Linked DNA regions of Homo sapiens. The protein of the gene in region 1 interacts with the protein of each later gene in a pairwise test. Each region holds a gene or a part of one and is shown in the gene's direction. Other genes may lie near its edges.

Region 1 (3,650 bases):
AGGTTCCACTCTGAGCCAGCTGGGGAATGTTGATTTGAGGTTACAGCACTCTTGATCTGATAATAGGGTCTAAATTTGCTCTAGAGACTTTGTAGTGCTTAAATCTTGGGGATAGCTGAGCTGAACCAGATGCAAGCTCTGCCCTCAGGGTGAGAAGTTTCTGCACAATTAACTGGAATCCAAAACACGTGAAAAAGGAGCTTCACCAGTGAGGGTGAAGTGGGTATGCTGTTTGTCTTAATTTATGTGTGCTCCCCATTTGGGCTAAATATGGTGTTATTAGGGAGGGATTACTGGTTTATACTGGAAGAAGATTATGTATTTAGGATTTTGGGGCCTTCTTAGGATTCAGTATCTGTCAAACGTTATAGAGAGGGAGATGAAGTAGTGTCAACGTTTGGTACAAAAAATAATTTACTGAAGGCAGTAGGCATTTCATCTCCAGTTACTGGTTTGGTTTTGAGGCAGCCCCCTGGAGGAGATGGATTCAGTATTAGCTAATCCAGGGATTTGGGTCCAAGTTAAGGGAGAGGCGGGGACATCTAGGGTGTCCACCTGGGAAGATCAAAGCTTGGTCCTAGTTGAATGAAACAATTCCTTGGATGGTTCCGAAACTGAACTGACCTACCTCCTGGGAGTGGCAGGGAAAGCATCAAGCTTTTGCGCATTTACTTCATCAAATCCTTTACCATATCAGATTATCACTTAGTGGCTATTAGGCTGTCTCAAAATGTCCATGGCCCTGTGGGACAAGAGAGATAGTATAAATGTGCTAGAAGAAAGGTATGCCATTTAAACAAAAGTACAGACGGGCCCCAATTTATGATGATTGGACTTAATGATTTTTTACTTTATAATGATGCAAAAGTGCTACCTGTTTGCTAGAAACTGTACTTCAGGCCAGGCATGGTGGCTCATGCCTGTAATCCCAGCACTTTGGGAGGCCGAGGTGGGCAGATCACTTGAGGTCAGGAGTTTGAGACCAGCCTGGCCAACATGGCAAAACCCTGTATCTACTTAAAATACAAAAATTAGCTGGGCATGGTGGCACACACCTGTAATCCCAGCTACTTGGGAGGCTGAGGCATGATAATCACTTGAACCCAGGAGGCAGAGGTTGCAGTGAGCTGAGATCGTGCCACTGCACTCCAGCCTGGGCAACAGAGCGAGACTCTGTCTCAAAAAAAAAAACCCAGCACATTTAGAATTTCCATCTTTTCCCAGACTAGGGATATCTGGTATGATATTTTCACATGAGATATTTAACACTTTATTATAAAGTAGGCTTTGCGTTAGATAGTTTTGCCCAACTTCAGACTAATGTAAGCGTTCTGGGCACATTTAAGGTAAGGTAGGCTAGGCTTAAGCTATAATGTTTGGTAGGTTATATGTAGTAAGTGCATAAATTACGATACTTTCAGTTTACAATGGGATTATTGGGATGTAACTTCATTGTAAATCGAGCATCTATACTTTTACCAGTAATGAGATTTTTCAAGTGCCTTTATGTTTCAGTTTATAATTTTCTTTTCTCTCTTTTTTTTTTTTTCTTTTTTGAGACAGAGTCTCACTCTGTCGCCCAGGCTGGAGTGCAGTGGTGCAATCTCGGCTCACTGCAACCTCCGCCTCCTGGGTTCAAGCCATTCTCCTGCCTCAGCCTCCCAAGTAGCTGGGATTATAGGCGCCCACCACCACGCCTGGCTAATTTTTTGTATTTTTAGTAGAGATGGGGTTTCATTGTGTTGGCTGGGCTGGTCTCGAACTCCTGACCTCAAGTGATCCGCCTGCCTCAGCCTCCCAAAGTGCTGGGATTACAGGCTAAAACTAGACTTTTAAAAGAGAATAATCTACTGAAGATATTGTAGTAATGAGTACACCAGTAATAACAATGTTAGTACACCAGTAATAACAATGGTTACCATGTATTGAACTCATTCTATGTACAAAGAGCTATTTTAAGAACTTTATTTGTATTATCTCACCTAATCTGCAACCTTAGGAAATAAGGATTGTTATGTACTAGTATTTTACACATGGTAGGTGAAACTGAAGTACAGTGAGGTTAAGTGCCAGCAGCTTGCTGCATGTCCCACTGCTAAGGAAATAACTAGGATTCAGAAGTAGCAGGCAGTCTTAACCACTATGCAGGGGACATGGTTATACAGTGTATGAACATTACTCAGTAGTAAAAACTAATGAATGGAAAGCTTTCTTGGCCAAAAACACAGAAGAAGAAGAAGAAGAAGAAAAAAAACTACTGACAAATTACTAACAGTTCTTCCCCCTCCTTTTTTTGTTTTTGTTTTTTTGAGACAGAGTCTGGCTCTGTCACCCAGGCTGGAGTGCAGTAGCGCAATCTCGGCTCACTGCAAACTCTGCCTCCTGGGTTCAAACGATTTTCCTTCCCTAGCCTCCTGAGTAGCTGGGATTACAGGCGCCCACCACCACATCTGGCTGATTTTTGTATTTTTTTACTAGAGACTGGGTGTCACCATGTTGGCCAGGTTGGTCTCGATCTCGTGACCTCAGGTGATCCACCCACTTAGGCATCCCAAAGTGCTGGGATTACAGGCATGAGCCACCGTGCCCAGCCCTTTCCCCTCTTTTAAACTATATGGGATTTTTCTTCTAAGTATCAATTTGGTCCCTTCTAGATATGTGGGAACAAGGTTCAGGATGGTTGAATTTATACAACAGGAAGAAAGAACCATGTAATTGACAAACTAATTTTTTTGTTTTAATTTTATAAAACGGTTTTGCTGTGTTGCCCAGGCTGGGGTGCAGTGACACATTTTTGCTCTGTTACCAGGCTGGAGTGAAGCAACATGATGATGGCTCACTGCAGCCTGAAATTCCTGGGCTCAAGCAATTCTCCTTCCTCAGCCTCCCAAGTAGTTGGGACAACAGGCGCACACCACCACACCCAGCTAATTTTTTAATTGTTTGCAGAGATGAGGTTTTGCTGTGTTGCCCAGGTTGGTCTGGAACTCCTGGGCTCAAGCGACCCTCCCACCTTGGCTTCCCAAAGTGCTGGGCTCACAGGTGTGAGACATTGTGCATGGCCTTTTTCCTTTTTTGTTTTTTGGAAGTGAACATAACCTTGAGACTTTATTGTCTTCATAATAAAACATAAACTGATATTTAATTAAATGTGCGAACAGTGTTTCTTTGACTTGCTGTTTTAATGTTGCTGTACACACTGAGGCAAAGTCTGTCTTGGCTCCAGCATTGCATAGAACGCATACTAAATCCACGATAGTTTTGTTTTGCATAGCTTTTGGCTACTTCAGCATGTTTCATGTTCACTGTAGCTCCTAGGTGTGTGGGAATAGGACTGAAGAGAATGGTTGTGTTTTTTTTAATTTTTAAATTTTTTTTACACGTAGTCTCGCACTGTCACCCATGGTGGAGGGCAATGGCGTGATCTCAGTTCACTGCAACCTCCGCTTCCCTGGCTCAAGCGATTCTCCTGCCTCAGCCTCCTGAGTAGCTGGGACTATAGGTGCCCGCCATCACGCCCAGCTAATTTTTGTATTTTTAGTAGAGACAGGGTTTCACCATGTTGGCCAGGCTGGTCTCCAACTCCTGACCTCATGATCTGCTTGCCTTTGCCTCCCAAAGTGCTGGGATTACAGGCGTGAGCCACCGCA
Region 2 (3,650 bases), about 48 Mb from region 1:
TTCCACTACTTTACGTGTATGAAATTATTTAATTGCTGTGGCAGCTCTGTGAGTGTATACTATGATTTCTGTTTTACAGGTGAGGAAACTAAGGCAAGGAGAAAAATTAAGTAACTGTTGGAAGTTTATCAGCTAGCAAATGGTGGAGCTAGGATTTGATTTCATGCAGTCTGATTTGAGAAACCCAAATTCTTAACAATATGCTACAGAGCCTCTACTTACATTATTGCTCAGTGTAGAAAGTTTAGACAGTCCAGAGATATACTGTCATCCCTTGGTGTCTGTAGGGACTGCTTCTAGGACCTTTGGTGAATATCAAGATGCACAGATGCTCAAATCTCTGATATAAATGGCATAGTATTTGCATATAACCTGTGCATATCCTCCCAAATACTTTATATCATTTCTAGATTACTTATAATACCTAATAGAATATAAATGCTATGTAAATAGTTGTTATACTGTATTGTTTGGGGAATAAAGACAAGAAAAAAAAGTCTGCATGTTTCAAATACAGATGCTATATTAAACTTTTTGGATCCAAGCTTGGTTGAATCCACAGACATAAGAGCCCATGGATATGGAGGGCCAACTGTATAATGTAAAAAAATTCCTTCTCATGCGCTAGTTTCCAGTTTTCATCCTTTGTAGATAACCAGGGGCAACAGTTTGATATAGGTCTTTTCACCTCTCTTTGTGTGCATATACAAGTAATTATTTGCAGATTTGTCTGCATATTCAGAATTTAAAAATTACACTTTTTTTTAGCAGCTTTAGATGTACAGAAATTTGAGCCGATAGCACAGAAAGTTCCCATATTCCCTTCCCTTCCCTCGTTTCTCCTATTGCAAACATCTTGCATTAATTTGGCACATTTATTGCATTTGATGAGCCCATATCAATATGTTGTTATTTATTGGTCTATAGTTTACATAGGGCTTATTCTTTGTGTTGCAGTTTTTTTTTTTTTTTTGTTTTGTTTTTTTAAGATCTCACTCTGTATCTCAGGCTGGAGTGCACTGGTGCCGTCATGGCTCTGCAGCCTCGACCTCCCGGGCTCAAGCGATCCTCCCACCTTAGCCTCCCAAAGTGTTAGGGTTACAGACATGAGCCACTGCACTTGGCCGAGAGTTATTTTTTACAAAAATGGGATCAAGCCCAGTGGTGGCTTGCGCCTGTAGTTCCAGCTACTTGGGAGGTTGAGGTGGGAGGATTGCTTGAGGCTAGGAGTTTGAGACCAGTCTGGGCAACACAGCATGACTCTGACCAGTCTGGGCAACACAGCATGACTCTGTCTCTTAAAAAAAAAAAAAAGTGGGCTGAGGGTGGTGGCTAACGTCGGTAATCCTTGCACTTTGGGAGGCCAAGGCAGGTGGATCACCTGAGGTCAGGAGTTCGGGACCAGCCTGGCCAACATGAATGAAACCCCCTCTCTACCAAAAATATATTAAAAAAAAAATTATCTGGGTATGGTGGCGCGCGCCTGTAATCCCAACTACTCAGGAGGCTGAGGCAGGAGAATCGCTTGAAACTGGGAGGTGGAGGTTGCAGTGAACCGAGATTGCACCACTGCGCTCTAGCCTGGGCAACAGGAGCAAAACTCCATCTCAAAAAAAAAAAAAAAAAATGACGAAACCCGTCATTCAGCAGTCATTCACCTTTTTTGGTGGTTTTCAGGATATAGTGCTTTTGGACTTTCTAATGTAAACATTCTTGATTTACTAATTTTCAGATTAATGACAATTTATTTTGGGAATGGAAGGCTGGCTTGGATGTTACTTTTTCTCTCTTTTTATTTTTCTATTTTTTTTTTTAAGTGTATCTCATAGTGGCAGCAGCTTTTCCCCAAAGGAATGCTTATTTTTTTTGACGGGACATTCTGGCTATACCTAATCATCAAAGTTCTTCTTTTTTCTCTTTATCTCTGGATTTGGAAAATGATTCATTTTGGTTTTCTTCCTCATAAATTCTTTTTGGTCTGTCCAGCCATTGCAGTTGCTAGTCATGTCTCCTTGTCAGACTTTGGCTTTTTATGACTGTCATCAATGTTAGAAAAAATTACTTGCTCCTTATCACTATTTCAATACATTTCCTCTTGGGCTTTCCCTGGGGGCAGCACTGAATTTTTTCCTTAGTTGAGCCATGCAGATTTTCTAGAAGTCATCGTTTAGTTTGGCTTTTCACTCCTCCATGGGTGCTGTTCAGCTTCTAGGAGATTTCTTGCAGTTTCTACTTGTCAACAGATTCACCAGCAGCACCCTCCTCCTCACTGAGACTGGTGCTTCCCCACCCATCTTTATCATTTTCAGCCTTCTCTTTTTCTTTCTCTTTTCTTTTTTCCTTCTTTTTTTTTTTTTTGGTTACAGCGTCTTACTCTGTTGCCCAGACTGGAGTGCAGTGGTGCAATCGTAGCTTACTGCAACCTCCGCTTCATGGGCTCAAGTGATCCTCCCACTTCAGCTTCCCAAGTAGCCGGGATTACAGGCATGCACCACCATGCCTGGCTAATGTTTGTATTTTTTGTAGAAACAGGGTTTTGCCATGTTGTCCAGGCTGGTCTTGAACTCCTGGCCTCGAGCGATCCTCCTCCCTCAGCCTCTTGAATAGCTGGATTTAACAGGCAGGAGCCATTGTCCCTGGCCATATTCTTGCACTGTTGATTTTACTGGGGCCTCTGTCAGCTTACCCTGGAATTCTGCATCATCTGAGGATTTGGAAGAACTGAATCACAGTTATAGTAGACAGCATCATATTCTTATCCTTGTGTGTTTTATACTGGGACAGGTCTTGAGGAAGTTCTTCTGTCATGGCTAGGGGACATTGAGCTATTACCTCTTATAGCACTGATTTGGACTGTCATGTCTTCCCTAAAGTTCTTGTCCATAACATAATGGATGGTCACAGTCATGAGCAATAACTGAGTGATCTCTGGGACTAACAGGTGATGAAATGCATGTTTAGCAAACAGTGATTTCTGTTACTTCTCTGTGGTGCAGCAGCAGAAACTTTTGCCCAAAGGCATAGAAGTTAGAGGGCTTATGAATTTCTGCCAATCTGGAGATAAGATTTATGAGCATCATGTTAACTCAAACCTCTGCTTAGAGATTTCTAGCTGTGTGCTTCAGGAGTGTTTTGGTAAAACTTTGAGGATCATGAATAAAGCTAATAGCTTAAAAGTTAAACACTGTGAGTTTTTTCTTCTTTTGTTTCCTGGGCACTTTTCATAACCTTTTCAGTGTTTTGTGTTTGGAGCCACTCTTCCCAGTGACATACTGCACTTGTAGGTCTCTTGTCACTTTATCCTCAGATTCTGAGTCTGTCCTATTTGTTTCTCTTCTTCATCTTATCCTAGGAAGAATGTCAAGGTGGCAACCAATATCTCAAAACATGCAGTTGTGATGACATTGACAGTTTTGGCATCAGTCCGGATGTTTCTTGTAGAGTTCAGTCATCACATCCAAAGATATCTTGGCTGCAGTTACATTGCTGTCTCTTAACACGATGTATATGAAATTCTGCAGTACTATATCCACTTTATTCTTGTGTTTTACAGTTATATTCTTGCTATCAGTCACAACATGAGTATGTAAAGTCTCAAAAGCTTATTATGGCAACTTGGAAGTTCAAAAAAGAGCTCTAGCAAACTTGAT

The links. Proteins that work in one complex are often made in the same cells at the same time.
Region 2: the proteins of TMBIM6 (region 1) and ADIPOR2 interact in binary tests that used the Homo sapiens proteins (3 or more experiments, as listed by UniProt).

The regions. Positions count from the first base shown.
Region 1 is NC_000012.12:49,744,545-49,748,194, forward strand, and holds part of TMBIM6 (bax inhibitor 1), read left to right. Parts: intron 1-3,650. UniProt on the Homo sapiens protein: Endoplasmic reticulum (ER)-resident protein that confers cellular protection as an anti-apoptotic protein by limiting multiple stress-inducing pathways surrounding the endoplasmic reticulum and mitochondria.
Region 2 is NC_000012.12:1,694,055-1,697,704, forward strand, and holds part of ADIPOR2 (adiponectin receptor protein 2), read left to right. Parts: intron 1-3,650. UniProt on the Homo sapiens protein: Receptor for ADIPOQ, an essential hormone secreted by adipocytes that regulates glucose and lipid metabolism. Required for normal body fat and glucose homeostasis.